3 separate regions of the Homo sapiens genome follow, and regions 2 and 3 are each linked to region 1. Evidence: fine-mapped expression QTL. A gene starts in region 1. Each other region holds a variant in brackets. All regions are shown on one strand. Distances are from middle to middle.

Region 1 (10,860 bases):
CCCGTCCACCCCTTGGAAACGGGGATGCATCTAGGAGTGCCTGCCCAGCTGCCTCAGTTCTCTGGAGTGTAAGGTTAGGGGTTACGTAGGCAGCCCTGTGCCCGTTAAATGTCTCAGCATGTGCATGACAACTTGAGATCCAAGAAGTCAGAATTAGGGGCCAGGCGCACTGGCTCATGCCTGTGATCCCAGCACTTTGAGAGGCCGAGGCAGGTGGATCACTTGAGGTCAGGAGTTCGAGGCCAAGAAGTAAGAAATAGGATCTACAGGTCCTGAGCTAAGGTGGCCTCTCAGTGAGGCTCTAAACTGCCCGACACGTGCACCCGACACGCCTGCGGGTCCGGTGACCCCCTTTGTTGCACCTGGCATGCTTTGCACAAGGTGGCTGGAGGGGCTGCCATGGAGAGAATCCGCTGCGTTCGAACTGACCCGTCCTCGTGTGTGGCTGCTCACCTGGAGAAGGTTTCCTGTCCCTGCTTCTTCTGTGCTCGTGTCAAAGCTCACGCCCCTGCCTGGGCTCCAGCTGGTGATGGCAGCTGCAGTGTTAGCAGACCTGCTCGCCCCAAAAGGACATCCCAGCAGCAGGGATCTTGCCCGTATATTCCTTATGCATGGTTCAATGACAGTTAAAATCTGATTGGAGAGTGTGTAGCCATGAAAAGTTGAGATGAAAGAGTGTAAGGGGGAGATGGGAATGAGGTCGGCTCCCCAGCCCTTGTCCACATTCAGATCAGCAGTTCACAGCATCGCTTTGGGCCGTCCCTAAAGTGGTTCCATTCCAGCTAGTGGTTTTAGGTATACAAGTTGTCTTCGGGGAGTTTAAACCCTGCCGCGGGGATTTCCCTACCATACAAAATGGCTCTCCTGAGTGGTGCTGAAAAGAAAGTCTCCCCCACTTGCTTCTGGTGATGCTTCGGGGGCCTAAGAGTCAAAGAAAGAACATGAGTGTATCGTAAATAACTTTACTCCATGCACTGAAGGATGTGGTTTTTGACAGTGCAGTGGGACTCAGAAATGGGGAGCCAGCCATTTACCAACAATTTGGCTGTCAACTTGAGTCCTTGAACCCCTGCCCAGCCTCCTTCCCAGCCCCAAATATGCACACACAGGTTTCCGTTCCCAGGCCACTCAGCCTCAGCATCTTGTCCCACAGATGCACAGACTGAGTCAGCTCTGAGTGGCAGCAGGTGAGGGGTGTTGACGGACCCAGGGGTGCTTTGTTCCATCAGCAATACAAAGGATGATGAAACAGGAGATTCTCCCAGGGGCTGCAGCAGTCTTGGTGAGAGGTGGCTAAGAACGTTTCCGAGGCCAAGTCCAGGCTCCACAGGGCAGGCCCCATCAGTAATGCCCGGGAGCCTCCTGTGCAGAGGCCGGGTGTCGTCTGGATGCAAAGAACTTTGTTTGGAATCTGGCAGCACCAAATCCTTGGCTGTAAGCAAATGGTGCCACCTGGGGCATTTTCCACATTCCCAGCTGGACCCTGGGATTGACTCTTTGATGTTTCTCATCATGATGTCACCTTTGAATTCATGTCAGGATCAATGACTGATTCCACAGAAACCGGGCTGCCTTTCCCAATTAGTTACGGTGAGTTTCCTCACCTGGGAAGTAGGAAATGATTATGTTTGTGGGGTCCCTGAAAAACGTGCATTCAGCCCAGAGGGTGACGTGTCTGCTGAATTGTCTTGTCCCTGTTCTTCAAAGTACCACTCCCAGAATTGGCCTCTTTTCCATTCGGCAACTAAGGGAATACAGAGCTGTGGCTTCCCTTGGCCTGGCTGTGGCCAGGCTGAGACGATATCCATGAAAGAGGCGTGGAACCTGCCAGGGAGAGTGCGGAGGGTGCATGAAGGGTCTGGGGGGATGGGGGCCGTGGACAAGTCAGCTCTCTGGATGGACAAGGAACTAGGACTGAAGAGCTGGACACGAGGCCAACTGCTGAATGGAGGAAACGTCCCCCAGCAACAGCCATGGGTCTGTGGGATGCTCTCCCCAGGGCAAGTAGCTCCCCATCACTGTCACTGGGGGACTTGAAGAGCTGACACTGAGGGAAAGGGGGAAGGACGATACCTCGGAGGAAGTTGAATCTCCTGGGTCGGCAGCTCAGGCCAGCCGTGCTCACAAACCCCAAGCACAGTGGCTCATGATGGCAACGGTGTGCATAGGGCACAGGCTGCCTGGGGGCACCTCTGGCTCACATGTCCTGTCATTCGAGGGCCCTGGGCAAGGGAGGGGCCCTCTCTGGATCTGTTTTCCTCATGACAGAGGCAGAGAGACAGGGTGTGACTGAGACATTTGGCTCTGAAAGCTGCTCAGTCGTGGCCCTTAGCCGTTCTCCCTCCCGGGGCCAAAATCGCAGGTCACACAGCCACGCCTGATGCAGGTGGTGTTTGGGAGACTGTCAGCTTATGGGAGGTGCTGCCAGGCACAGGGAGCCGGGCCAGGATGGAAATCCTCTCCAGGGAAGGGGGTGAGGAGCAGTTACGCCTCCACCCATGTGTGAACCCAGAGGCCTCAGAGGAGGGGAGTACAGGGAACACTTGGCTCAGAAGACCCATGCTGGTCTTCTGTGGCTGCCGAGAGGGAGTGCCCAGGGGACCTGTGGCTCCTCCCATTCTGCCTGGCTTGAGGCCAGGTCCTTTCCTTGCTCCTGGAATGTTCCAGCACAGAAAGGGAATGAAAAAGCTACATACAACGTAGAAAAAGGAGAGGTGGCTCCATGTGGGACCTCTCTCTGTGTCTCTTCTCTCTCTGTGTCACTCTATCTTTCTTCTCTCTCTCTCTTCTCTCTCTGTCTCTCATCTCTCTCTCTGTCTCTCCTCTCTCCGTCTCTTCTCTCTCTCCTCTCTGTCTCTATTATCTCTCCTCTCTGTCTCTCTTCTGTCTCTCCTCTCTGTCTCTATTATCTCTCCTCTCTGTCTCTCTTCTCTCTGTCTCTCCTCTCTCTGTTTCTCCTCTCTTCTCTCTCCTCTCTCTCTGTCTCTCTCTCCATTTCTTTGTCTTCCTCTCTGTCTCCTCTCTGTTTCTTTGTCTTTCTGTCTCTCTGCCTTTGTCTCTCTCTCTCTCTCTTCTTCTCCCCTTCTCCCTCCCTTTCTTCCTCCCCTCCCCTTGTTTCCCTTCAAGATATTTGCCAATAGCCTGAGGAGAGTATGCGTATTTTTAAACAGCAACCGGGCATCCAAACTTTGTCCCTTGAGGGCATCCTTTGCCAAGGAGCATCGGGAAGTGGCCCAGAGACCTGCTTCCCTCCAAGCAGCCACTCCTGGCTCTGGGACCTGAGTAGGTTTGCATCCTGCGGACCTCACTGTTCTGACTGTGGGTGTCAGTGGTCGTCTGACTGTGGGTGTTGGTGTCGTCTGTGCCCTATCAGCTCACCATGTGGCTGTCCTAGGGCTTCTCGAGGTGATTCCCCAATAGCCCACGTGTGTCCGCCTCTTGTAAGGTCTATAGCAAGCTGGGCAGGAGCACCCTCTCACACTTGCGTCTTCTGAGCTCTGAAGCCGGGAGATGCAGAGGGGGTGTGCTTGTTTTTATGTGTGTTGATGAATTTGTACAGAGTCCACCAAGGTCAAGGCCTGTAGGGGGCTGGCATGAGGATAGAGACGTGGCTGTTCTAACCTGTCATGACAGGGAGGGTGGTGCAGGCTCGTGCCAGGACTCAGAAAGGGGTGGGCAACCTCCTGTCCTTCCCACGAGCGTGGAAGGCAAGGGCCCATGAAATGTCTTCTGGCGGCCTCTGTGGCTCGTGGAACTGTGCGGACAGCCAGGGCTGCTGTGGCCATGCAACTCATGCCACTTCTGGGGCTCGTGAGATTTAACTATGGCCATGACATTTATAAGACGAGGATGCCACCATGTGTATGGGCTTAGCCCTGGAAATAGGCTGTCACCATATGACCTTGGACAGGTCTTATCATCTTTCTAGGCCTGAGATTCCTCATCTATACAGTGGAGTCAATGCCACCACACCATGCACTTCAGTAAGGATTGGGTGCCAGGCATGGCAAAGCCCCAGTGCCACCAGGGGCGCAGCACCTGCCCCATCAGCATCCGTATGATTGTTCAGAGCTGCAGGTGTGATGAGCCCTGGCTTTAAGAGAAGTCGTGAAGAAATTGGGATTGAAAGTCCTCTTTAGGAACACTTGGTATTGCCTGGCGCCATGGATCCCCTAATCCAAATGCCTTCATTCTTCAACGATCCATACTTTCCTTCTGGAATGCTCCATGGCCTTCTAAATCCAATTACACTTACTCAAGCCTTATCTGACGACCCTTTCAAAACCATTATGCCCACTGAATCACAGATTTTAGAAACTGGACAGGACAGTTTGGAGCAGGTGCAGGTTGGAGCCGCTCAGGTGCAGGTTGGAGCCGCTCAGGTGCAGGTTAGAGCAGTCCAAGTGCAGGTTAATCTTTTACTTCGTTAAATAAATAAATGTCTATGGCTTCTGAGATGGCCTGACAGTTTTGTGGATTGGATTGGGTTGCATTTGAATTTGTTCCCGCAGAACAAGTGGTCCTTGTCCTTCCGCAGCGGGAAGCGGCGTGAGTGATCTGGACAGACACGGCTTGTGGCCTTGAATCGGTGTTAAACATGCATGGCCAGAGGAGGGGGGCGAAGCCAGCCCAACCGGACTTGTGTCTCCGCCTGGGCCCAGTCTGTGAGCCGGGCCTGCAGTCCCAGCTTACACTGGGAGATGGCGCCCTTCCCCAACAGTTGGAATTTCCTGGCATCCGACCCAGCCCGGCTGCCTGAGATTACAGCATTAATCAGAAAAGCAGATCTGAGGGGCTCATTTAACTAGCGGGTCTCACACCCAGCACTCAGGCCAGGATCATCTTGGCTGCAGCTGAAGTCTCTTCAGCCGAGGACTGCGCACACAGAGAGAAAAGCCCCAGGAAGGCGTTGTTCCTCTCAGGCGGGCGCCAGGGAGGCGCGCTCCTTCCGGCCCGGCGTCCGTCTTTCAAATCCCATCCAGGAAGGGAGATTAATTTTCGCCCAGGCAGAGAAGAGTGTAGTGAGTGATCTGGAGGATTCTTTCCTTCCCAAATGGCTGGGAAAGCTTAATGGAAGGCCCCGGAGGAAGTGGCTTTCATCTCCGATTAGAAGCCTTCTGTAAATGCAAAAGCCCTATTAACGTGTTTGACCCAGTCAGGCCTGCGCTTCAGGTGGGACTGACACGCGTGAGTCCTGCTGCGGTCGCCGCAGAGGGCCGGGAAGAGGGGCAGCGTGCGCCACTTGCCCTGCCTCTGTGCCTGGGCGCCATGACTCGAGCGCCACCCCTGAGTCAGTAAGGACACCCCCCAACCCACACCCCTCCACCACAGACCCCAGTCCCCGCCCCACACACCCACCTCCCCAACACCAGGTTCATGGGCGTGGTCCCTTCAGCTCCTGAGGTCCAGGCCTGAGCCCCAGACCTTATGCAGCTCCTGCCGGGTGTGCGCCCTCCCAGGGCCCTCACTGCGCACCGCGGGCCACGGCAGACCACCCCAGCCCCCGCCTTGCTGTGCAGGTGTCAGGAGTGCCGGTTGGCTCCCTTCCTCCCAAGCAAGGCCTTAGGGCACCGCGGCTGCCCTGGGATCGCAGGGGCGCCTTTAGCTCTCCACCGATGCCCCGACGCCCCCCTGGCGCTGGAGGCCCTCGCGAGTCTGGCTGCTTTTCGGAGCCTGCCCTGCCTGCTGGGTTTCAGGCGACGGCCCAGGCTGGCTGGGACCCTCGAATCACCGCGGAAAAGGGCTCCAGTAGGCAGGACGGCGCCGTCTCTCTGCCGGCAACCTTTGCCCCAAAGCGGACCCTCTGCGGGGATCGGAGAGGGATGCCCCGGCGTGAGGATGGGAGAAGCCCCGGGACGGGAGGGCCGCGGGCCGTGCCCCCAGCTGGAGTCCCCGCGCCGCCGCCGGGTATTTTATGATCTGGGGGTGGTGGTGTGTCCGTCTCCTCATGTCACCCTGATCCCAACTCCTGGGCGGACTGGAGTTTGCAGACCTCGCTGCCAGCAGCCAGGGGGCGGCGGGGAGCCGAGCGAGAGGAAAAATCCACCCATTTCCTGGGCGGATTGCGTCGGTCCCGCCCGGCCGAGCCCCGCCTCCCGGCCGCGGCCCCCGCGCGCAGCCCGCGCAGCGCTCAGAGCCGGACGGCGCTTCCCGGTGGCGGCGGAGGAGCCCGGAGGGACGCAGCCGGGCAAGGCAGGGCGCAGGGCGGGCGGCGCGAGGCGCAGGGCGCGGCGGGCAGAGGCCACCTGGCCACCTTCCCTGGCGCCCGGGGAAGGCGCGGCGATGGCCGGGGCGCGCGGGGCGGCGGCGGCGGCGGGCGGGCGGCGGCGGGCCGAGGGGGCGCGGGGACACAGCCAGGCGCCCCTGCCCGCCGCGGTGCCCGCCGCCTGAAGGCCGCCTGGGCGCGGGAGCCGGTGCCAGCTCGGAGCGGGCGCTGGAGGCAGCTCGAGGCGCGATGTCGGTGCCGCTGCTCAAGATCGGGGTCGTGCTGAGCACCATGGCCATGATCACTAACTGGATGTCCCAGACGCTGCCCTCGCTGGTGGGCCTCAACACCACCAAGCTCTCGGCGGCCGGCGGCGGGACGCTGGACCGCAGCACCGGCGTAAGTGCGCCCGCCGGCCGCCTTGGCGCGGCTCCTCCTCCTCCTCCTCCTCCCCCTCCTCGGTCCGGAGCCCCGGGCTGGGCGGGCGCCGCGCGGGACCCGAGTCGCCCAGGGAGGCGGCGGGGAGCAGGGCGGGCAAGGGCAGGCGTCGCGGGCCGGCGCAGCGGTGGCGACCCTGCTCCCCGCTCCCCCAGCCTGGGCCACTCCATCTCCGCCCGCGCGCCCCTGGGGCGGCGTTTCCTTCGTCTGGGCCCCTCGCCGCGGGGCCGGGGGAGCTTGGTGGGTTCTCGGAGGCTTGGAGTCCTGGGTCAGTAATCATGAGCCCCCCATTGAAAAGGTTAGGAAACTAAGGCTGGGGACTTGGGGACTTGTCCAAGGTCACACTCAGCGAGTGAGGGGTGGAGCCGCCGCTAGACCCTAGTCTGGGCTCGGTCCAGCGGGGACTGAGCCCGCCCTAGTTTGTAAAAGCCAGACTGGCCGGACCGGGCTGGGAGTGGGGCCCCAGCCGGTGGGCTCCGGAGCTCCTGCCCGCGCCTGCATTCCCAAAGTCCCAAGGCGCCCTTTCCTCCCCAGTCCATAGGAGGGTTTGTTCCTTCTCCTCCGAGGACGGTGCCGAGGGGCTTGGGTGGGGCCCCTGGGAGCCTGCCCTTGGGCGCTCACCCCCTCGCCTTTGCCTTCGTCTTCTGCGCGCACCCCTCCCTCCTGGCCTCTGAAATTGAAATCGCGTCTCCCTCTCGAGCCTAGCGGGAGGGGAACCGTGGCCGGGGCTGCTTCTGGGCAGAGCTGACTTAGATGGCTGAGCGAGGCTGAGCTGAAACCGCCACCCGGAGGGCCGCGCGGGGAAGGGGCCGCTGCCGGGAAGGCGCGCCCCAGACCACTGGCCCTTTAGGCTGAAAGGAGAGGTGAAGGACGTGAGTCTCCCTCCCTCTCTCTTTTTGCTGCCAGGGGTTTAGTGCCCTGCGAAGAGGGCTCCGTGGTGTGGCTCCCTCCTAAGACCCCTCTTGAGGCCGCCCTCCCTGCTCCTTCAGGAATCGGAGGGCGATTCCTCCATGATGACTTTGTTCCGGCCTGCCGGTCCCGATCTTCTGGGGTTGGGAATGAATGAGATTAAAGATATGACTACTATAGATTCTACCCGCCCAACTTCTCCTCCCCATCTTCATGCTAAAAATAGCAGAGAGATGACCTGATGCCACCGGAGGGGAGCGTGCTCAGAGACAGTAGGGCCAGCAGCAGGATGGAGCTGTGTAGGCTCAGGAGTGCCCGCCCCGGTACCTGGCAGGGCTGGGCTGCAAGGTTAGACCAGACATGGGCAGCTCCGGTTTCTTTGGTGATCTTTGGGCAAACCTCAGGACTGAGGTTGGGGGTGACCCCTGCACAGCATGTCACCAGCAATTTGGCGACCTCCACCAAATGGCTCGTGGGGGGAGCCCACAAGGAGCTGGAAACCTAGTGTTTTCTCGGGTCGGTCTGTGCCACGCTGCCGGCTGGGAGGTTGCTGTAGCTCGGGGTTCATCACAGCTCTGGGCGAATAGGCTGCTGGATCTGGGGCTGTTACAGTGGGTGCTTCGTCTGCAAGTGTCAGGGAACGGCAGGGCGAGGCTTGGTGGTGCCAGCCACCCGTGCTTGACTTACGGGAAGGATATCCTGTTTCTGAAATACGTGCCCGCTGCAAGCCACCCAGCGTTTGCTTTCCTGCCTTGCTCCTAGTCCAGCCTGTGGCCTCCAGTTGCCCCTCCCATCCACCCAGCAGATCAATTTGGCCAGACGACAAACTCCAGACATCCCTTGAGTTGAACTTAAATTTTAAGAACGTAAAGGGTCTTGCCTCTTTGACATCCTTCCAGCCCTGAGCCCCCTAACAGGAGACCTGTGCCTCTTTGTTCCCAGGGACCCTTTCTTCCCTTTGGGTCAAACATGTCTTGGGACCATTTCCTCCCATCTTTTCCTTGGGGGTGGATGTGGACAGTTTCCCCTGGTTGTTGGCTCTGATACACAACCTCATGGTCTCCCTTTCTCTCCTTCCCTCTCCCTTCCCGCCCCGCCCCTCTCCAGGTGCTGCCCACCAACCCTGAGGAGAGCTGGCAGGTGTACAGCTCTGCCCAGGACAGCGAGGGCAGGTGTATCTGCACAGTGGTCGCTCCACAGCAGACCATGTGTTCACGGGATGCCCGCACAAAACAGCTGAGGCAGCTACTGGAGAAGGTGAGTCTGCGCAGAGTGTGTGAGTTTGTATGTGTGTGTGTTTGTGTGTGTGTGTGTGTGTGTACATGCCTGTGTGCTCACACCAGCACCAAGGCTTGGCTAGCTTGCAGGCCCCATTTTGACTCTTTCCTGGTTTGTCTCCACTCAAAATATTTGTGAATGAGTGAAAGGGTGGATGGACGGATGGGTGGATGGGTGGGTGGATGGATGGACGGATGGGTGGATGGGTGGGTGGACACACAGGTGGATTGAGACTTCCAAGGGTGGTCCAGGAAGAGAGGACTAGACCTGCCCCCTGTCACCACAGGCTCCACTGAGAAGTCACATGGGCATGGTGAGACGGGACACAAGGCTCGTCTCTGAGTGATGTCATAATCTGTGTGCACAGGGCTGGGGCTGTCACCCAGCAGCTACCTTGGAGAGCGCCCATAGGCCCAGGAATGCATGGCCATTTGGATTTTACGAGATGAGATCTTTTTTCTGCCCTTGAATGGTTGTACCTGGCCAGTGGCTGGACAGGTGCTCATCACCATGAATGCCTTCCTGGGGCTAAAGCAGGCCATGCTGTCACCTTCAGAACCACATGGGAACAGCAGGTTTGCATATGTCGTTTGCATAACATATTTTGAATCCGTTATTTCACTTAATCTTCACAAGAACCATGTGAAGTTGGTGAGATTTTTCACTCCAGTTCAAGAAAAGGAAATTTGGCTCCCAAGGGGTGGACTTATTTGTCCCAAGCCAAACAGCTGTTAGTAGGGAAGTGGGCACTCGGACCCACATGGCCGAGCTCATCACCTGGTTCAGTCTCCTCCACTCCCCACTTTAGTCAGGGGGCCTTCTCCTAATGGGCACAGCCCACCAGCCTTTTGGCACATTCCACCCAAGGACCCCGTATTCTGTGGTTAACCTGGGTTCTGGGGGCCCCATAGGAGAGTTACCAAGGGAACAAGGAGGAATGGTGGGCCCTTCTGTTCCACCCATTGATTCCCCAGAAGAAAGGTGCATTTGCATGTAGTGCCTATGGGCAGGGAACTTTCCCACCCTGAGGGAGTGGGGTCACACCACACACACGCACACTCACAAACACACTCACACATAGTCACACACACACTCACACACAGTCACACACATTCACACATAGTCACACACACATTCACACAGTCTCACACACACATAGTCACACAGTCACACTCACATAGTCACACACTCATAGTCACACACACACACAGTCACACACTCACAGTCACACACTCACACATAGTCACACAGTCACACACACTCACATAGTCACACACACTCACATAGTCACACACACACAGTCACACACTCACACATAGTCTCACACACACACAGTCACACTCACACATAGTCACACACTCATAGTCACACACACCCACACATAGTCACACACACTCACACAGTCACACACACACTCACACATAGTCACACAGTCACACACACTCACATAGTCACACACACTCACAGTCACACACACACTCACACATAGTCACACACACTCACACACAGTCACACACACACTCACACATAGTCACACACACACACACATAGTCACACACGTTCACACACACACAATAGTAAAGCCGTGACTCTTCCTGCAGGTTGGCCTTGGACTTTCTGGAATGGGCGTCAGCTCAGGAGTATGGCAGGAGGCCTGTGAGGGGCGGGGGGCCTCTGTGACTCAGGGCTGGCTCCGTGCTGGGGGGACAGATGGTGCTGTCACTGCCCACCTCGTTGGGGAAGGTGGGAGCAGCCTGGTGAGAGGACAGCATTGACCCGACTCGGGTCCACATTCCTGGTGCTGAACCACAAACCCTCAGGAAGCTCGAGACAAAGCAAGTCCCCTTCCTTGGAGAAGGAGAGGGTGGGCTAGAGGTTTCGAGTGCCCACCCAGCTCTGACGGGCCTTGAAAGGTCCGAGTCACTGCCTGTTCTGTGTCCCAGTCCCTGTCTGGAATGGCCACAGGACCCTTGTTTCTTGGGCAAGAAGGATGCATCATGGTACGCAGGGCAACTGGCCTAGTTCGTAAA
Region 2 (10,860 bases), 180 kb before region 1:
ATGGGCCCACGCCTACACTCCTACTTGAGAGGTCCCATGGCCAGGAAGAAGAGCACTGGCCCAAGAGGAGGAGGGCTTGATTTCTTTTCACCCATTCAGCTTTATCCCTCAAATCACAAAAGCTCTCTCAGTTCTGCTGATGTGAGTTGGGGAGGAATTGGTGATGGGAAAAGACTCTTCATCTCTTCATAAGCTTGCTTTGCTTCTTTTATTTTGAGACAGAGTCTCGCTCTGTCGCCCAGGCTGGAGTGCAGTGGTGCGATCTCGGCTCACTTCAACCTCTGCCTCCTGGGTTCACGCCATTCTCCTGCCTCAGCTTCTCGAGTAGCTGGGACGATAGGCATCCCCCACCATGAACGGCTAATTTTTTTGTATTTTTAGTAGAGACGGGGTTTCATCATGTTAGCCAGGATGGTCTTGATCTCCTGACCTTGTGATCCGCCCGCCTCGGCCTCCCAAAGTGCTGGGATTACAAGCGTGAGCCACCGCGCCTGGCCGCTGCTGCTGCTTCTTCTTCTTCTTCCTCTTCTTCTTCTTCTTCCTCTTCCTCTTCCTCTTCCTCTTCCTCTTCCTCTTCCTCTTCTTCTTCTTCTTCTTCTTCTTCTTCTTCTTCTTCTTCTTCTTCTTCTTCTTCTTCTCCCTCTCCCTCTCCCTCTCCCTCTCCCTCTCCCTCTCCCTCTTTCTCCTTCTTCTTCTTCTTCTTTTTATTTTTATTTTTTTTTTGAGGCGGAATCTCGCTCTGTTCCCCAGGCTGGAGTGCAGTGGCACGATCTCAGCTCACTGCAACCTCCACCTCCCGGGATCAAGCGATTTCTGGCGGAGTTTTGTATTTTTAGTAGAGAGGAGGTTTCATCATGTTGGCCAGGCTGGTCTTGAACTCCTGATCTCAAGTGATCCACCCACTTCAGCCTCCTAAAGTGCTAGGATTACAGGCGTGAGCCACTGTGCCCAGCCTGCTTTGCTTCTTAAAATTAATGTTCAGTTTCTGAAAGCTACAAATTCAAAAACTCAATTCATCCTGAATATTTTAAGTTTGGCTTACAGTTCTTGTTTTTCTATTTATAAGACCTGCAAATCTTAAGAGTCACCTTTTTAGAGCTTTTGGATACCATAAATTTAGTTCTTTAAATAACTTCAAACATTTAAAATTGCAATAAGAAGTGGAATACACTCAAATTTCTCCTGCGGCATTTCAGCTGTCTAATGAGAAAACCCTCCTTAGCACTAATTAATCTTTAAAAATCTAATAATTTAACTTAAATCTTAAGAAATCTAATAATTTAACTTAGAAATGCAATGAGCTCAAAGTCTCTTAAATATGCCAATACCGTGTATAAACGCACTAAGATTTCCATGTAATATTACAAGATGATTTTGATTAGTTAGTTCCACATTTTATATTGGATTTGTGAGATTCTTCATAATAGGCCAAATTATTTAAACATTACAAGACTGTGAAAAATCAAACCTGTCCAGATTCCTTAATACAAAAGGCATATTTTGGCCAGGCACAGTGTCTCACGCCTGTAATCTCAGCAATTTGGGAGGCAGAGGCGGGTGGATCACTTGAGGTCGGGAGTTCAAGACCAGCCTGGCCAACACGGCGAAACCCCATCTCTACTAAAAATACAAAAAAATTGCTGGGCATGGTTGTGTGTGCCTGTGATCCCAGCTACTTGGGAGGCTGAAGCATGAGAATCTCTTGAACCTGGGAGGTGGAGATTGCAGTGAGCTGAGATCACGCCACTGCACTCCAGCCTGGGTGGCAGAGTAAAACTCTGTCTCAAAAAACAAACTAAAAGGCATATTTCTATGGCTATTTTATATTTATATTAATCATATTTATATTTTATATTTATACTAATCATTTCTAGACTTAAAGCTAAGTCTTCCTAGGTTGTAAAAATGCTTACCTACTGAGGGACGAAAGTACTATCCCAATAGTGGATTTTGTGATGGACTAGAGATTGTGGCAGGGGCGTAGTAGGGTCTGGTCAGCCCCCAATGGGCTACAAGGACCTCTCCTTACAGGTATTGAGTCAAGAACACTGGGCATCAGTGGAGGATGTGCCTGTAGCTCATGTTCCTGGATCCAAGCATGTGCAGTTTCTTTATAAGTAGTTTTTAAATTGTGGAACATAACATGTACTCAAAAGTGTATAAAGCAAAAGTACAGCTTAATTATTTTCATCACTAGTTAACAAACATCCTTACAATCACCACCTGGGTCAAGAAACAGAGCATTGCCAGAACCCCAGAGGCTTGTCCCTGTCCCTTCCCAGTCACCATGTGGTCCCACCCTCAAATACAATCACTTTCTTATTTTTCCTGTATACATTTACCACCTAAATATGCATCCAAAATACCATTGGCTACTTTTGCTTTTGAAAAACTTTATCTACAATGGAATCCATAGCACATACCCTCTTGAACAGGCTCCTTTTGCTGCCATGTTTGTGAGACTCATGCTCCTTGTGTGTAGGTGTCACTGTGTAATTGTCATGGCTGTATGGCGTTCTACCCAATGGCTATCCTTGCATTTTTTAACATCCATTCTCTTCCTGATGGGTATGTCGGCTGATTCCAGTTTGGTGCTATGGTGAGTATTTGGCTGTAAAGATTCCTGGCCATGCTCCCTGGTACACATGACGGCCATATCCAGGCCCTGATGTGGGACTGGCAGGTTAGAGGACTGTGTGTCTTCTTCTCCAACAGTTGATGCCAAGCCATTTTCCAGGTTGGTTCCATCAATTCGCATTGTTACTAGCAGTGTATGCAAATCTCCCTCCCACAGTCACCTTTGACACTGGTGCTATCCATCTTTCTAACTTCTGAGGCTCAGATGAGGGTGCCGCAGTGACTCCTTTGGGTGCTGATTTGCATTTCTCTGGTAAGTGAAAAGTGGAGCACTTTTTGATAAATACCTTGCTCCCCTGCATGTCATCTTCTGTGAAGTGTCTGTTCACATCTCATACCTTTTTTTATTTAACTGAGCTGCTCTAATTCTTTTATTATTTGCAGGAATTCTTTCAGGTATAAGCCTGTGATTTATTTATTTTTGTATAAGGCATGGTAGGCAGAATAATTCCCTGCCCCCACCACTGCCCCGCCAAAAATGTCCTGCCCTAATACACACAAAGTCAGAGCCTGCAAATACCTTCCATGGCAAAAGAGACTTTGCTGATGTGGTTAGGGATAGAGACCTGGACATGGGAGAGGATCCCAGATCATCCAGGTAGGCCTAGTCTAATCCCATGAGTCTCAGGAGTGGAGACCCTGTCCCATGGGGCTTGGGGGGAGAGGGGACAACGGATGAAGGGTCAGAGAGATGTGGTGCTGCTGGCTTTGGGGTTGGGGGAAGGAGTCCGGGCCAATGAATGCCAGTGACCCCTGGGGCTGGAAAAGGCAAGGAAGCAGGTTCTCCCCTAGAACCCTGGAAGGAGCCACCACTGCTGAGTCCTGCCTGCTGGCCCAGTAAGGCCCAGGGACTCCAGATCTACTGAGCCAGGAGGTGGCGAGTTCTTGTTGTTTCAAGCCACTCCATTTGTGGTGACTGGTTGCGGCAATAGTAGAAAACTAAAGATTTGTGTGCCGCACGTTGATTCTGCCCCTCTGGCCTTCCTTTGGTTCCCTTAGTGTCCTTCGGTAAGTGGGAGCTCTTGATTTGAATGGAGTCACACTTGCCACATTCCCTTTGATGCTTCTTAGGTCGTGGTTGAGAAATCTCCCCTGGCCTGGGAGCTGGAGAAGCCCCTTCTCCATCATCTCCTAGAAGCCTTGTGCAGCTTTTCCCACTGAGGTCCGCGGTCCCCTCTAGCTGAGGTCTGTGTGTGGGAGGAAGGCCTCTTCGGAATCTTCTCTGTGCAGGTGGCTGACCAGGCGCTCACTTAGTGAGTGCTAAGTGTTTATCTCTTCCCAGCAGCCAGCCAGCCCAAAGCATGAACTCTGCCGTGGTGGGAAGCAGAAAAGTTCCTACTAAACTTTCCCCCTTTTTAGTAAGTGTTTTCTGGACCCCAAAGTGACCTTTTTCAAGAAGTGTGAAGTGTTGTGAGTGAGGCATGGGGGGATGGGGGAGGCTTGGGGGTGGAGGTGAGGATCGCCCTGTGTCAATTACTGGAGGTGGAAAATCCTCGCAAAAGTCACTCAACCTCCCTGAACATCGGTAGTGCCATCTGCTAAATAAGGGTCCTGACTCTTCCCGACTTACCAAATTCCAGGGAAAGACCTGCCGTGCAACAGACACAGGAAAGTGATCAAAACCACTGGTGTTCAAGAAACACACATTGAAACTGGTAAAACTTTTCTGTCCCAAAGTAAACATATTTAGAAACATAATTCTCCCTCTGGTGAGGTTGTGGGCATGTGGCGGCTTGACTGAGCTGGGGGCAAAGGGGCAGCTGTGGGCGTCATGGGAGTGTGTCTGGCTGGGGAAATGGGGTGACTTCCACGACGCAGCGCTTGTGGGTGTGGCCTCCCCACTAGCAGGTGCATGTGGAGGGGTCCTGGCCCGTCTAGGCGGGCCGCACCTTCATCTCTGACACCTTGTAGCTATATTTGTACCCCTTCGCCGCACTCCAGTTGATACCATTGGCATAGCTCTCATGGGGTCCCATGAGGTAGAGACCATTGAGGTTTGAAGCATGACAGTCGGCGTACCACCAGGCTCCTTGGAACTTCTCAGCACAATTCGAAGAACTCACATCATTGTCTTGGTCTTTGGTGGAGAAGAAGTTGTTGTTGTGGCCCGTTAGAGAATTACCTGCTCACAGAAAATGTGGGGTTTGCAGATGCTGGAAAAAGCCCTGCCACTGTGAGACCCTCACCACATCCTGCCTCTGAGCAGAGCCAACCTCACTTTAGCGACGCATGAGCCGAGCTACAGGTGCACAAATGACCCACCCAGGCCTTGGAGGAAGGGGAAGCAGGAGGCAACCTCTGGCAACCTGGTCTGGAAATCTCTCTCCACAACCTGAGGCCCCTGCTCCAGCAACCACCTGTTTCCTCCAGGGCTCCCGCAAACTGTCAGGCCTCCTGCTCTCTCCTGGAATGACCTCCCTCCTCCAGCCTGCGCCGCTCCTTCCGGTCTCTCCCCACGTCCCCTGGTGGCCCTTGGTAGGTTCAGGACAGCCCTCACCTGGGGGCTTCTCCTCTATCTCAAGCCCTGAGCCGGAAGCTCATCCCTGGCTCCTATAGCTGAGAAATGTCACCCCCTGAGCCTCGGTTTTACCACCTGCAAAATGGGGGTGACCTTCCCTGCCCTGCTGCCTTCCTTGGAGGTCATGCGTGAGATCGTGCCTGTGAAAGGACTGCACAGACTCCAAGGCTGTCATTTCCAAGGCTCCCCTGGGACTGCCTTGCTCCATGGAGCAGTTAGTTACACAGACTTCCAGCTGCAGCAATTCTCAGTGCCTTTCACGAACGATGTGCACTGGGAATTCCCTAAGCAGACGCCCTGTAGGAAATGCCTCCCCAGATCGTGTAGCCAGAGACTCCTTTTGGTAAAGAATGTCCCACAAGGCTGGTGTTCCATGGAGCACAGTTTGGGAAACAGCTCCAAGGCACCCATGAGAAAAGGACGACGTCTTCCAGGTTTCAGCAGTGATGCTGGTGGGTCGTCTCAGCCCTGCCCAGGCAGCTCACTGTGCGGCAGACATAGCCTTAGGAATACCAGCCGCTATGTCCTGTGAGCCCCACGCTGTACAGAGACACAAATGCTAGTGTCTGCTTCATAGATGGAGAAATGGGATTCAGAGAGAGGAGGGCCCAAGGTCACCAGGGGAGACAGAGCCAGGTTCTCTCTGCTTTCCAAGCCCCACTCAGGCCACCAGCCCCAAGCAGACACTCACCCGCACTGCCCCCGACAAAGGCTCCCAGTACCAGCTTGTACTTCTCTGCCTCGTCAGCCACCTTGAATGATTTGTACTTAGCAAACTGGTGGTTGCCCTCAAAGTCCACCAGGTCTACACGGAGCTCGCTGCTTCCTGTTGGAAAAAGATTTTAAGGCCCCAGCCTTTAAGATCTTTCTGTCACCAGGCATGAGGGCTGGGGATGGGTAATTTTTTTTTTTTTTTTTTTGAGACAGAGTTCCGCTCTTGTTGCCCAGGCTGGAGTGCAATGGCACCATCTCAGCTCACTGCAACCTCCGCCTCCTGGGTTCAAGCAATTCTCCTGCCTCAGCCTCCCCAGTAGCTGGGATTACAGGTGTGTGCCACCACACACAGCTACTTTTTTTTTTTTTTGTATTTTTAGTAGAGATGGGGTTTCACCATGTTGGTCAGGATGGTCTCGATCTCTTCACCTCATGATCCACCAGCCTCAGCCTCCCAAAATGCTGGGATTACAGGTGTGAGCCACGGTGCCCGGCTGGGGATGGATATATTCTTAAGGGATGTCTGAACGTGGCATCCAGGAAAAAAATCAACCGGAAATGTCAGAAAATCCCTTGTTGCTATCAGGCCCTCAGGGATGGCTTTCTGTTTCTAAACACCTTTCCCGTTATTTCAGAGAACTGAACATGCCCCACTGGAGTTCACTGGGTGGAAGGGAGCATTCTTTCATTTTGAAAGTGTACCTTCTCCTTCTAAGGGTTGGTGAGCCACTAACACAGCAGTGGGCGAAGCTCTAATTGTAGTTTCTTTTGCAGGAATTTGAGGCACCTGAGTGGATTCCTTCAATCATGCCACAGGGCAGTGGGCAGGGATAATGGACCAGCAATTATACAGACTGCCTCAGGACCAGCTGTGAAACTC[AT/A]CCCCTGCCCCAGAGGGTTGGGGGGAGGCCCTCTCACTCAGGTGAGTGCGGCTGTGGGGGGCCTGCTGAGGCGTGGGCTGGAGGAGGCGAGCGTGGGCTCTCCATGGGACTAAGATGCCAGCTTCAGAGGCAGATCAACAGCTGGAGATGGGGGAAGGCTACCCCAAGCCCCAGTGGTCTCTCTCCTGCTTCCCACTCTCAGGATCTAAGATGCCAGTAGGACCAAGACCTGAAGAGGCCTTCAGCCCAGGGCTCTAACCGTTTCCCTTCCCGATGTTGCCAGAGCCTGCGGCAGGGGACGCAGCCCTTAGAGGTCCCAGTGCCACCTGAGTGTGCTCAGGGCCCAATCCCCTGTGGGCCAAGAGGTGCTTATGTTGCAGATGGCCCAGGCCTAAGGGGCAGGAGCACCTCAGGGCCCCCCAACCCCTGAGCCACGGCAGTGGCCCTACCCTGGGCAGTCAGGGCGTGGATGTTGTCATTCCCCAGCCAGAACTCCCCCAGCTGACTGCCGAAGCCCTGCTTGTATGCGGCCCAGTCCCGATAGAAGTCCACAGAGCCATCCATCCTCCGCTGGAAAACCTGTGAAGAAGCCAGGATACAGAGTTAGGCGGGGCAGGCCGAGGTCCCACAGCACCGGGGACCCGCCCTCCAGAGGAGCAGCATTTGTAGTTGGCAGAGCATCACAGGCCGGTGCCACACGCACGCCCATCTGGTCTCCTCACAGACTCCACAGGATGAAAGAGGAAATGCGGTCTCAGAGAAGAGAGGCAACAAGCCCCAAGCCACACAGCAGGAGAGCACCGGTCCCCTCCCAGCCTCCCCGATGGCCTGGACTTTTACCCACGGGTCACTTCCCCCATCATCTATGATTGTCCCCATCCAGGGGAATAGAGAATTCCAGAGTGTGTTCTACAACCAGGTGTGCAGCCTGGCCTCCGGGACTCCCAGGCTGACCGCCTCTGCCCAGCCCCACACTCACGGTCCAGCCCCCTCCGTCCGTGTCCATGTCACAGAGCACAGTCAGGGGCCGGCAGTCGGGCAGGTAGATGGTGTGCCAGCCGCTCAGGAAATACCCCCGGTCTAGCAGGTCCTTGCAGTTGCGTGGGCCTGGGAAGGGAACCCGGGGAATGGCTGCAGGACGGGGGCCCTGGGCAGGACAGGGGCAGTGGGAGGGAGGCCCAGGAGGGAGGAGGAGGGCCACAGGCTTCTGTGCGGACCGAGCAGGACTCCGAGGCCTGGACAGGGACACGGCCCCCAGGGCCACGCAGCTGTGATGCCCACACCCAGTCTGCCGACCCTCCCACCTCCCAGTGTCTGCCCCACCTTTGCCTCCTGGGCACCCGGCCTTCTAGGGTAGATAATAGTAGAGCCCAGGTTGTCATGGAAGGGATTCAGGTGATAGCTGCCCATTACTCGAGTGATTGAGGGGGGGATGATAGGTGCAGACAGGGTTCTGTCCTTAGATTCCGTAGCGTGAACGTGTGCAGCTGGCCCCAGGGGTGGGGGCAAGGCTTGGGTACCGAGGTCAGGGTGTGATCAGTCACCTGTCGCACACGACTGAGACTGCCCAGCGTCTCCTGTGTGGGGAGAGGAGACACTTGTCATAAGCTTGAAATCAGAGCCTTTGTCCTGGTCAGCCCCAGTGGCTCCCTGAGCACAGAATAGAGAATGGGCAAAGGCAGCTCCTCTGATGTCTCCAGGACACGTGGCACAGGCCTAGGGAAGGATGGCCAGACTCGACTTCCCCAGAGGCACCAGCCACATGGTTGTCCATAGGCCCCTGCTGTGCAGCTTGAGCTTGGTGGGCTGTGGCAGGCGCTGCGGGTCCTGCTGGACGAACTGGACCCCTAGTGGGGCCTTCGCCACTGATAACAGCGGAATAACTCTTCAAGCCTGGCAGGGTCACTCCAAGCCTGCCCTGCCTCCGCCCTGGCCTCTGTTTCTTGGGACTCAGGTATCGGCGGACCCTCAGCCCCCGGCTCCGGTTTTCATTTGTGTTTGTGGGTGGAGCGTGGTACAGTGTATTAGAGTCTTGCACATTTGGCTTTTTTAAACTTTTACAATTTTTGCATAAATGAGCATAAGTAAGACAGAAATTGAAATATTGAAGTGTCACCATCTATGCACTGATGTGGTCCTGCTGGCCACTGGGAGTGACTGCTGTAGACACCAGGGTTTGAGCCCTCGTGGATTCTGACAACAAAGCCCGCTGGACTCCTTCCACCCCTCCCTGCCCACAGCCTGGATTGACAGGGACGTGGGCGGTGGGCAGGCGGACTGAGGCCTCTGAGACCCCTCCCCTGGACAAAGCCTGCAGAGACAACTGCCTGGGCCCACGGGTGGCTCACCTTTCTCTCCACGCATCCCCTTCTCTCCTCGGTCTCCTGGAGGAAGAGGCAGGATAATGAGCTTTTGACCCCAGATGTGTGGGCCACGGAAAGGCTGGTCCAGAGTGGGCTCCCGGCCTGGACACTGCATCTCCCCAGCCCTGCAGGCTCACTAAGGCATCACAACGCCCAGGTCTCAATGGTGGGGAGGGGCCCCGAGGCCTGGAATATCCCAGGGTCCCTGTCCGCCTGCCACTGTCTTTCTCTCTCTGTTGCCGTGTCTCTCTGTGTCTGTGTCTGTGTCTCTGTCTCTGTCTCTCCCTCCCTCATTTCATTACAGACAGCTCCAAGGTCCCTGCTCAAGGCCTCCTCGCTGTCTGTCCCCTGGTTACCTTTGGGCCCCACTGGTCCTGCCTTTCCAGGGGCTCCAGGGAGACCGCGTTCTCCTGAAAATTCCAAAGACATATCACTGAGAAAAATGCAACCTAAACAATTCTCCCTGGAAATCTTTGCCCCAAGTGGTTAAGTCCTGACCCTCCCCCACTCTGCCTTGAACCCCTTCTGGTTCCAGGAGCTCTCAGAATTGCTAGCCATGGATTTAGCCTGGGGGTGACTGCAGATGGAGGTGAGGGATTGAGGGAGGGGCCTGCACCCCACCTTGGGCTCAAGGCAAGGTGCACCTTGCTCCTGTTTGTGCCTTGGGAGCAACCTGGGTTTCACACTCTGTTGACCATAAGCCTGGACCCAAGTCACCCACACAGAGCTCTACTGCCTAGCAAGGGACCAGGTTCTGGAACAAAGAATGCGTCCTCAGAGAGCCTCATCCTACCACGTCCCCACACGGAGAGGGTGGGCGCCACGTGCAGCCGCTGCTGCCAGGGAGGATCCGGTTCCACCGTGCGCCTGAGCTCCTGGGGTGTCACACAGCGCTCCACGTGGTTCTGGCCAGAAAGGTGACCCTCCCGTCCCCGATGCCAGCCAAGAGGCAGCCCCCAGCCCGCTCGCTGACCCCAGTGGCTGGGGAGAGTGTATGGGGGCTGGTTCTTGCTTTAGGGTATATTAGCCAGCCATGCCCACTGGTAGAAGCCTGGTTCAAGGGAAGTCTGAGCCAGACTTGATTCTTCTCCTGCCAGGGAAGGTCTTCCTCCCCAGTGTTCCCTCAGCAGGGGATCGGGACCGCACTCTCAGGTCCAGCCTGCGGAGTGGGCACAGAGGACCTGGCCCCGGACACCCACACGGAAGCCTAGACACGTCAGTGAAAGTCCAAGTCATAGGGACATTTGAGCTTGTCCCATCTACACTGGGACATCCCCACCAAGTGCTCCGCAGGCATCATCTTGAATGCGTCCAGGCATGGGGAGCTCACCCCCTAAGGCAGCGCCCTTTCTGAGTTTTTGTGCACGTCTGCCTTATGCCATGCTTAGGGGGACCCAAAACCACCCAAGGCAGGTGCCTGCTGTTCATTCTCCCATGTTCCCTGCAAATCCACATGCAGAGCTCAGGGCTCAGGATTCGGGTGCCCTCTGTGCCCTGAAGTAGACCAGTCCAAGTCCCAGCCCCACTCCTTACTGGTTTGTCAAGTAGGAAAGCCTGTGACCTCTTTGAGTCTCAGTTTTCCCATATGAGGCAGGTGCAGAAGAAAGCGGTCACCTCAATTTTCAGGTGAGAAGGTGGAGGGACACAGAGCTTAGAAGTCGTGCCAGTAGCTGAGCAAAGCTGGTATTGGATCAAGGACTAGGAGACAGAGCTACAGAAGCATGTCCAAATGTGAGCTCATGAAATA
Region 3 (7,853 bases), 280 kb before region 1:
TGCAGGCATGTGGGCCCTGGAGGAGAGGGGGTGCCCCGTGGGCTCTAGAGGGAAGGGGGTGCCTCACAGACATGTGGGCCCTGGAGGAGAGAGGGTGCCCCGTGGGCAGACCCTCAAGGGGAGGGGGTGCCAGGCTTCTAGAAGAGGGAGCCCATTGAAGGCAAGCACACCACAGGGCACACTGTCAGACACCAGGGGGAGGAGCACCTGGGAGCTTGGAGTTACAGGAAGACACAGAGCCCCGAACGCTAGACCAGGTAGTCTGTGCTTGCAAAGGGCCATAGGGAGCCACTGTGGGCTCTAGAGTGAGCAGGTAAGTGGAGTGATCAGCTGGTGCTTTACAAAGTCACGACCACGCAGTCTGAGAGCCTTTGAAGCAGACTGTTTTCTTGCTCCACCTCAGGGATCTCCAGGGGAGAGAGGTCCAGCTGGAGCCGCTGGGCCCATCGGAATTCCAGGGAGACCTGGGCCCCAGGGACCCCCAGGGCCGGCAGGAGAGAAAGGGGCTCCTGTAAGTACTGCCTTGGATTGGGGGAGCCCTTCCCTCAGAGATGCTGGGGTCGTTCCGTGTCTGGCCTTGTCCCTCCCCCTGTGATGTCCCCAGGGGTATTTCCTTGGGATTGGGGATGGGGTGGGGTCTGCGGCCCTCTAGGACAGAGCGTGTGTCCCATGGGAACCTGGTGACCTGCCTGAGGAGCACAGGAGGAGTCCTGGTGCCGGCCACATTCTTTCCGCCATCAGCTGAGCCAGAGGAGCCCTGTGGGATGATGTTGGGCCGGTCTCAGCCTGTCCACGCGTGCATGCTGGTGTTCCCCACATGCGTGGACAGAGGAAGGGGCCGAAGACAGTCAGTGCGCTGTGGACTTGGTCTCCGTCCAGCCTCAGTGCCACCTGTGTGGTCGGGCCACAGCTGCCCACTGTGTGAACTGTTCCCTGCTGCTGGCCCAGACCCATGGCTGGGCTCTTCCTAGGAAAGGATGTTTGGAACCGGGGAGTCCTGTTTCTTGGTTGGGGGGCAGGTGTAGAGAGCAGATGTCCAGCAAAGAAGGGGCAGGGGATGGGTGGATAACGGAAAGACAAGGCGCCTCCCTCTGTGTCCAGGAAAGCCCACCTGCTGGTAAGCCCCGAATTTTGCAGGCTTTGTGAAGCCTCGGGAGTGGGGAGGAGCATGTCTTGAGGCCACCCAGATCTTGGTCTCCAAGAAGGAGATGAGCGAGCGCCCTTTTTGCCTAGATGCTTCCTGCTAGCCTGCTTTCGTGAATAACCCACAAAATGCCACTTACCGTCCAGAAGTGGTCCACCCTGACCCGTATTTGGCTTCTGCCACACAATTTTGCAGTGTCCCCTACCTCTGCATTCAATCAGCTCTGGAGACCAATTTAATCTCAACTTCTCCTTCCCAGTACAGAGGGTCAGAATGAGCTTGAGTTCTCCAGGGGAATTGGCAGATAATCGGTGCAGACCATCTCAAATTGAGTTAGGTCTGAGTGCTGATTGTTAGAAAGCTGTTTTCTTTCTCTTTTTTTGAGATGGAGTCTTGCTGTGTCACCCAGGCTGGAGTGCAGTGGCGCAATCTCGGCTCACTGTGACCTCCACCTCCTGGGTTCAAGCAATTCTCCTGCCTCAGCCTCCCCAGTAGCTGGGATTACAGATGTGTGCTACCACACCCGGCTACTTTTGTACTTTTAGTAGAGATGGGGTTTCGCCATGTTGGCCAGGCTGGTCTCGAACTCCTGACCTCAAGTGATCTACCCGCCTCAGCCTCCCAAGGTGCTGGGATTACAGGCGTGAGCCACTGCGCCCAGCCAGAAACTGTGATTTTCTTGTACGTTTCACTCTCAGTGGCTCATGGGTGGCAGGAACAGCCTACATTCCCTGGGCAGGAACTTCCCTGGAAACCACATTGGAAACATCTGGGCCATTGAGAATCTGTTCAATACATTATTGGCAATTTTGGTGTCTTCTAATCATTTCCAGTGAGGCACCCAGGACATGGATCCAGCTGGATTCTGTGCCAGAAAACTGAAGCCAACTGGGCAGTCAGTGTATAGAGTGCACACAAAGTCAGCTGGAAATGGCTTGGTTCACAGTTTCAAGAGAGTAAATATTTGAGCAGAAACCTTGCAAGAGTTGCTCTATCCAGGCAGAAGCTCGTCATCCTCCCAGAATAGCTCCAGAGGGAAGGAAAGGCCAAGCAAAGGTTGGACGTCTCTGAGAACTCCCGACCTGACCAGGAATGTAGGACAGGAAGCTTCCACAAAAGCCCCACACGTGGTCTTTGCATTCTCTGGCTTAAGTAGGGTAGACATTTCTATGAATAGGAGCTCAGTTTGAGGAGCAGGACATGAATTGTGGAGGGAGGAATGGTAAGACGAAATAGTGATGGATGACTAAATCCCGGCTACATTTAGACCAGAACATTGAATGTACATTCTCTATTCCATGTTTCCCTTCCCAATGTGCACACCCTCCTTCTGTGTATCTGTCGGAAGATAGGGATCCCTGTCTGCAGTGAGAAAATATAGGCTGCTCACAGAGTGATGCGATGGCTGGTCAAACTGAGCAAAGCAAGAACTTAAGAAGGATCATTTGAGATTACCAAGCAGGCAGTTAGGAGGAAAATGAATCAAAGTTACAAGGACAGGAAAAATAGTGTGTGCGTATGCCTGCAAGCATGTCCTGTGTGTGTACCTGTGCGTGCATACTCATGTATGCATGCACATACATGTCAGTGTGCTTCTTTATATGTCCTTGTGTGTACATGTTGGTGCATATTCACACGTGTGCACATGTTGGTGCATATTCACACGTGTGCACATGCGAGTATGCTTGTTTTGTGCACATGCATGTGCATGCATGCATACCTGTGTACATAGGCGTGTTCACATGTGTGCATGTATGCACATGTGTGTGCGTACATGTCTTCATGTGTGAGCATGCATGTCCTTGTGTGTGTGTGCAGGGAGAGTGTCTGCAGAGAATGTAAAGAATCAGAAAGCTGGTGAAAGCTGGAGCTCAGGCTATCCTGGTGACTGGGCTTGGCTCCCGGTCACTAGCTTAGACAATCCACATACAGGCTCAAGAATTTGGCCGGCTGGATTTGGATCCTGTCTCTACTGCTCACTAACTGTGCCTCAGTTTCCCCATCTGTAAAAGAGCAGCCTTTCCTAGGATGAGTGTGGATTAATTGAAGCGATGCACCAGAAGTTCATGGTCCAGGGGCGGGCTCAGAGTCGGCCCTCAGTGGCCCTGGCTGAAATCCATTAGGACTGTGGGGACGGTCACCCTCACCAACTCCCACTTCCTGCCAGCGGATCCCTCTCTTGGGTAATGAGCTGGTGGGGGGATGTTCCCAGGTTGGAGCCACGTTTGACCTGAGATCTTCTGTATTCTCTAGGGCGAGAAAGGCCCACAAGGCCCAGCTGGCCGAGACGGTCTCCAGGGGCCTGTGGGGCTCCCGGGTCCAGCTGGCCCTGTGGGTCCCCCTGGAGAAGACGGAGATAAGGTAAGGCAAATCCAGAGTGACCCATGGCTGGGCCTGGCTGGGCAGACGGGTGTGGGGGAGGGTGGTGAATTTAAAGGACAGGATGCTGGCAGGTAGAGCGGCTCAGCCAGCGGAGTGATGCCACACCCACCCCGCAGTCCTGGCATTAGGGGATGATTTCACAGCAGCCCACTGGTAAATGGTAATACACGCCGTCCCCGGCACGCTCGAGGGACTTAGAAACCACACCCTCCTGTGTCATTTTGAGGTTGCCTGCAACATTTGCTGTGAGTAGCCACAGCAGAGAAAAATGCTCCCCGGTCCCCCCGAATAATTTCAAATTCCGAAACTGCGGAGCCCGGTTTAATGAGGTTTTGCTCAGTATCTATTTTTAAATGTCTCCGCTTGAATTATCCAGGCTCCCGTTCATTAAGAATGTGCTTTATAATTCCAAAACGATGGCTGCAGGAGCTTGCATTTTATCCTTCATTTAACGCAGACAGTGAAATTTCGCTGTGCTGTAACTTTCTATTGATGACCCCTCTCTGGGGACATTTCTGACTTTGTCACCTCTGCATGGATAATGCCTTACATCTCCGGGCGGGAGACAGCCTTGCACCGACAGGAACAACAGAGAGGATTTTAATAACTTCTTCGGCAACATAGTAATTGAGTTGCCTGTTGTTAGGTTGTCATGGTAGTGGCCCAATTTGAAAAACAGAGTAAATATTTTCAATATGACTTTTCCCACATCTTCAAGTCTACTAAAAGCCTGTCGAGCATCAGATCGAGACCTCGTCCCTTTTAGCCCTTGTATTAAAAAGGAAATCAAGCTAATATATGGAAACATTTATTCGTAGGAAAGTTTTAGGGCCACCTGGAAAGGACACTGTTCTTAATCTCCAAGAAAAATTCATTACGGGGAACAGAAAAGGTCCAAACGGTTGTCAAGCTTTCTAACCGAATCCCCCACACCTTCCCCTAGGGAGAGATCGGGGAGCCGGGGCAGAAAGGAAGCAAGGGGGACAAAGGAGAACAGGTAAGTATTGGCACGGGGGCGCGCGGCAGCCCCCAGGTCCCGGGG[G/C]GCCTCGTCGCAGGCTGTAGGCCGTGTGCCATGCACGTTCTCTTCCAACGTTGCTGATGACTAGCGGGACATGCTGTGAAAATCTCCCGTGCATGTGTGTTCCCACAACGTGTGTGTGTGCACACGCGTGCATATCTGGGAGTGAGTCTCTCTGTGTTAGAATGAACAGGAAGCATCCACCGGTTTTGCGAAATTAAATAAATGGAGTGTTTCTGTCCTAGAGGGCTTGGGTTCTGCAGACACACCCATTGCCCTCTGAGGTGAGGGAACCAGAATGCTCCGGCAGAGACAGCACCATTGACCAAATGCCTGTTCATTTTTCCCCTTTTGGTTTTTTCATCTGTTCAGAAATCCTAGTGGGTTCTTGCAAAAACCCCATGACTCTGCTACCAGCTCCCTCCCGATGAGTGACATGTCTTCTTATCCTGTACAGCCAGGCCTTTCCCCCAGTATGTTGATTCCTAGGCAAGCAGGATCCGTGCTCCTGGGAGGCCTGCCACAGAGGCTGTGTCCTTCTTCCAGCCGTGGGTTGGGCTACCAGGGCCAAGGGCACTGTACCCTCCTTGCTTGCCTCCTTCCCATGGTCCCATGCGGGAGGTCTCTTGAGGATGGCACAGCAGGGGACATGGTGCTGGGCGCAAGGGCTCCAGAGGAGCTTGTGATCCTGGACCCTCACTGTTGAAGGGGGCCTCACGTGCCCCTGTTGTGGGTGCATGATGGGAGCTGAGATGACACACGGTGGTCTCGAGAGACATTGGGGGCAGCTCTTTGCCATCCAGAAATGGGCTCAGGGTGGAACCAAGATCCTCATCTGCTTCCCAGAGCCTGCAGCAGGCTTGCATCGTGGTGCAAGGAACGACACATTTGGAGACTGAACTGACGACGTTGGATGCATCAGTCCCCGGGCTCAGGATGCGGTCCACCCCTCCCTCAGCCTTATCCACGATCCAAGAAGCTACCTATGTCTCTGTCTTGTTCCCCGCAGGGTCCTCCTGGGCCTACAGGTCCTCAAGGCCCCATCGGACAGCCAGGCCCCTCTGTGAGTATCCATGGTCAATGACCTTCGAAAAGCCCCACGCCCCCCCAGAGCTGCTGGCATTGCCAGCATCCTCACCCATGGCCGGTTATTTCCCTGCAGGGAGCTGACGGCGAGCCGGGGCCTCGGGGCCAGCAGGGCCTTTTCGGGCAGAAAGGTGATGAAGGTCCCAGAGGCTTTCCTGGACCCCCTGGGCCAGTGGGGCTGCAGGTAACTGTGGGGTTCTCACCACACCGGGCTCCTCCGCTTCTGACGCCCCCTGTGTCTTCATTGTGCTCTCTCCTCTTGTCTTTTTAAGAATGGAAAACTAAAGCCAGGCTGCAGGGGGCCTCCTGGGCCTCCTCATTCCAACTGGAAGTGCTGTAGCTTCCCAGAATTCCAGACATGCCCGCATTTACCACACTTCAGCAGTGGCATTTATTTCTGTGCTCATTGTGGAAACTGATGATTCGTGAGAAACATAGTAACAGTGACTTCTAAATGCACCTCCTAGAGATGACAACGATAAACATTTGGGCATGTTTCATGGCCATGCCTTTTAAATGTGTGTATTCTCATGCACAGAGGCGCATATGTAATTGTATTTGGTGTTTGACAATGAATCATGTCATAAGTCAGAGAGAAAGTTTGTTCCCAGCTTTCCCCATTTTCCATCCTCCATTCCCGTTTTATGTTACGAGTGTGTTGAATGCCATTACACATGACTTTCTATTTATTTGGAAAACATGATTTTTAGTCACTGCACAGTAAGCCAGCATCTGGTGGTGACATAATTTACCCAGGCGTCCCCTGCTGGCTCCTTAGGCTTTATTGTTTTATGGGTTCCTGCCATAATCACCTTTGTCGTAAATCTTTGCAATCTTCTCTGCTTATTTCCTCGGGCCGATTCTGAGACTGGGAACCCCGGGACGTCCTCGTGGGTAGCTATGCACAGAGAAGCACCTTCCCGGGGCTTCGGGGGCTCAGTGGTGCTGTGTGGGTGGAGGTCGTGAAAGCTGTGTGTGTGTTTGACATACACATGACAGAACAGCGCTTAACTGGGAAGTTTCCTGTTCTCAGGGTTTGCCAGGACCTCCAGGCGAGAAGGGTGAGACAGGAGACGTGGGCCAGATGGTAAGTGTGCCTGAGACTCCAAGGCCTTGCCGTACTAGCGGCTCATGTTTTGGGGAAACATTTGCGTTTCCTCTGGGCTCAGTGGTCTCTCCCTTTTCCTAGGGCCCCCCGGGTCCCCCTGGCCCCCGAGGACCCTCCGGAGCTCCAGGTGCTGATGGCCCACAAGGTCCCCCAGGTGGAATAGGAAACCCTGGTGCAGTGGGAGAGAAGGTGAGGCTCGTGCCTGCTCTGGTGGCAGATTTGCGGTTGTTTGAGGAGTGTGTGTGTGTGTCTGTGTGTGTGTGTCTGTGTGTATGTGTATGTGCGCATGCACACGCTTGTGGGGGTGCATACACGTGTGTGTACCTCTCTGTGTGTACACAGAGATGAGAAGTACTCATTTCTGTGGGCATGGCTGGTTTATTCCTATGAAGGGCATTTTGAAATGTAGGCAGATGCTTGTGAAATGGAACTGGGAACTCTGACTGTCCATTTGTGACAGCCTTTTGCAGAATTTCCAGACGATGCCCCACCAGCAAAGCCCCTGCCTCCTCCAAGACTCAGCTCTGGTGGAGATCATCTATTCCTTAAATAACTGGTGTTTCTAAGCTTGCAGTTTCCATTTCAGCCGAATTATTTTCTCAAATGGGTCCTCTCCATTTGATCTGATTGGTTTTGGAGCCCAGACTCCATGAGCGTCATGGACCCAGTCGTGTGTGTGTGTGTGCCTGTGTGTGTGAGCTCCTGTGTGCACATCGGTGCATGTGTGTGTGCCTGCATGCTGGGTGGGACAGCATTTGCCTGACTGCAAAAGCACCTCTCCCAGTTCCCCTGGACAAGAGGGAAGACAGAGTGTACATCCATGCACTTGAGCCCCCTGTGCACCGTTTCCAGAGCTTTCTTTCTGACATCAATCAGGCCATTAAATTGGAAGACGCCTTCCACCGCTGCTCATTTTTTATGATACAGAAATTAAAGAGGAATATGCCCTGCTGAGACCACAGGGTGATGGTGTGCGGCTTCTGCTCAGAGAGGCGGTGTTTTCCTTGGTGTCCCCGCTGTAGGGCGCATGTTTCTGTTCACCTGCTGCCACTGTGCATGCCCTCTTCCCTGCGTCCCTCTGGCCTGTGTCCCTGAGGACTGCGTGCCTGTCCTCC

Direction of the effects. Alleles are on the strand shown, and positions count from the first base shown. SD is a standard deviation of normalised expression in the study named. Not every link is listed here.
In carriers of allele A in region 2, the expression in monocytes of the gene that starts at base 6,133 in region 1 tends to be lower than with AT alone (large effect, 0.77 SD a copy in CEDAR).

What was found. PIP is the estimated chance that this variant, and not a neighbour inherited with it, causes the effect.
Region 2: its variant is the best candidate, but not a certain one, in a credible set for the expression of OLFM1 in monocytes (CEDAR, PIP 0.61).
Region 3: its variant is the best candidate, but not a certain one, in a credible set for the expression of OLFM1 in esophagus mucosa (GTEx, PIP 0.82).

Annotation. Positions count from the first base shown.
Region 1 is chr9:135,081,536-135,092,395 of GRCh38, forward strand. OLFM1 (olfactomedin 1) reads left to right here and starts at 6,133. Exons shown (of 6, transcript NM_001282611.2): 1 at 6,133-6,604; 2 at 8,660-8,809. The coding sequence starts at 6,455. RefSeq lists enhancers at 4,433-5,293, 5,294-6,154, 6,789-7,593, 7,594-8,397 and a silencer at 10,418-10,575.
Region 2 is chr9:134,905,287-134,916,146 of GRCh38, forward strand. It overlaps FCN1 (ficolin 1), which reads right to left. Exons shown (of 9, transcript NM_002003.5): 3 at 9,470-9,523; 4 at 9,099-9,134; 5 at 8,295-8,327; 6 at 7,730-7,857; 7 at 7,200-7,329; 8 at 5,847-5,981; 9 at 1-4,759. The coding sequence ends at 4,512. Among named protein-coding and RNA genes, the nearest start is that of FCN1, 7.2 kb to the right of the region's middle. The variant AT/A (reference allele first, on the strand shown) is at 6,750.
Region 3 is chr9:134,805,786-134,813,638 of GRCh38, forward strand. COL5A1 (collagen type V alpha 1 chain) reads left to right here. Exons shown (of 66, transcript NM_000093.5): 42 at 404-511; 43 at 3,398-3,505; 44 at 4,470-4,523; 45 at 5,554-5,607; 46 at 5,707-5,814; 47 at 6,664-6,717; 48 at 6,820-6,927. Among named protein-coding and RNA genes, the nearest start is that of MIR3689C, 40 kb to the right of the region's middle. The variant G/C (reference allele first, on the strand shown) is at 4,569.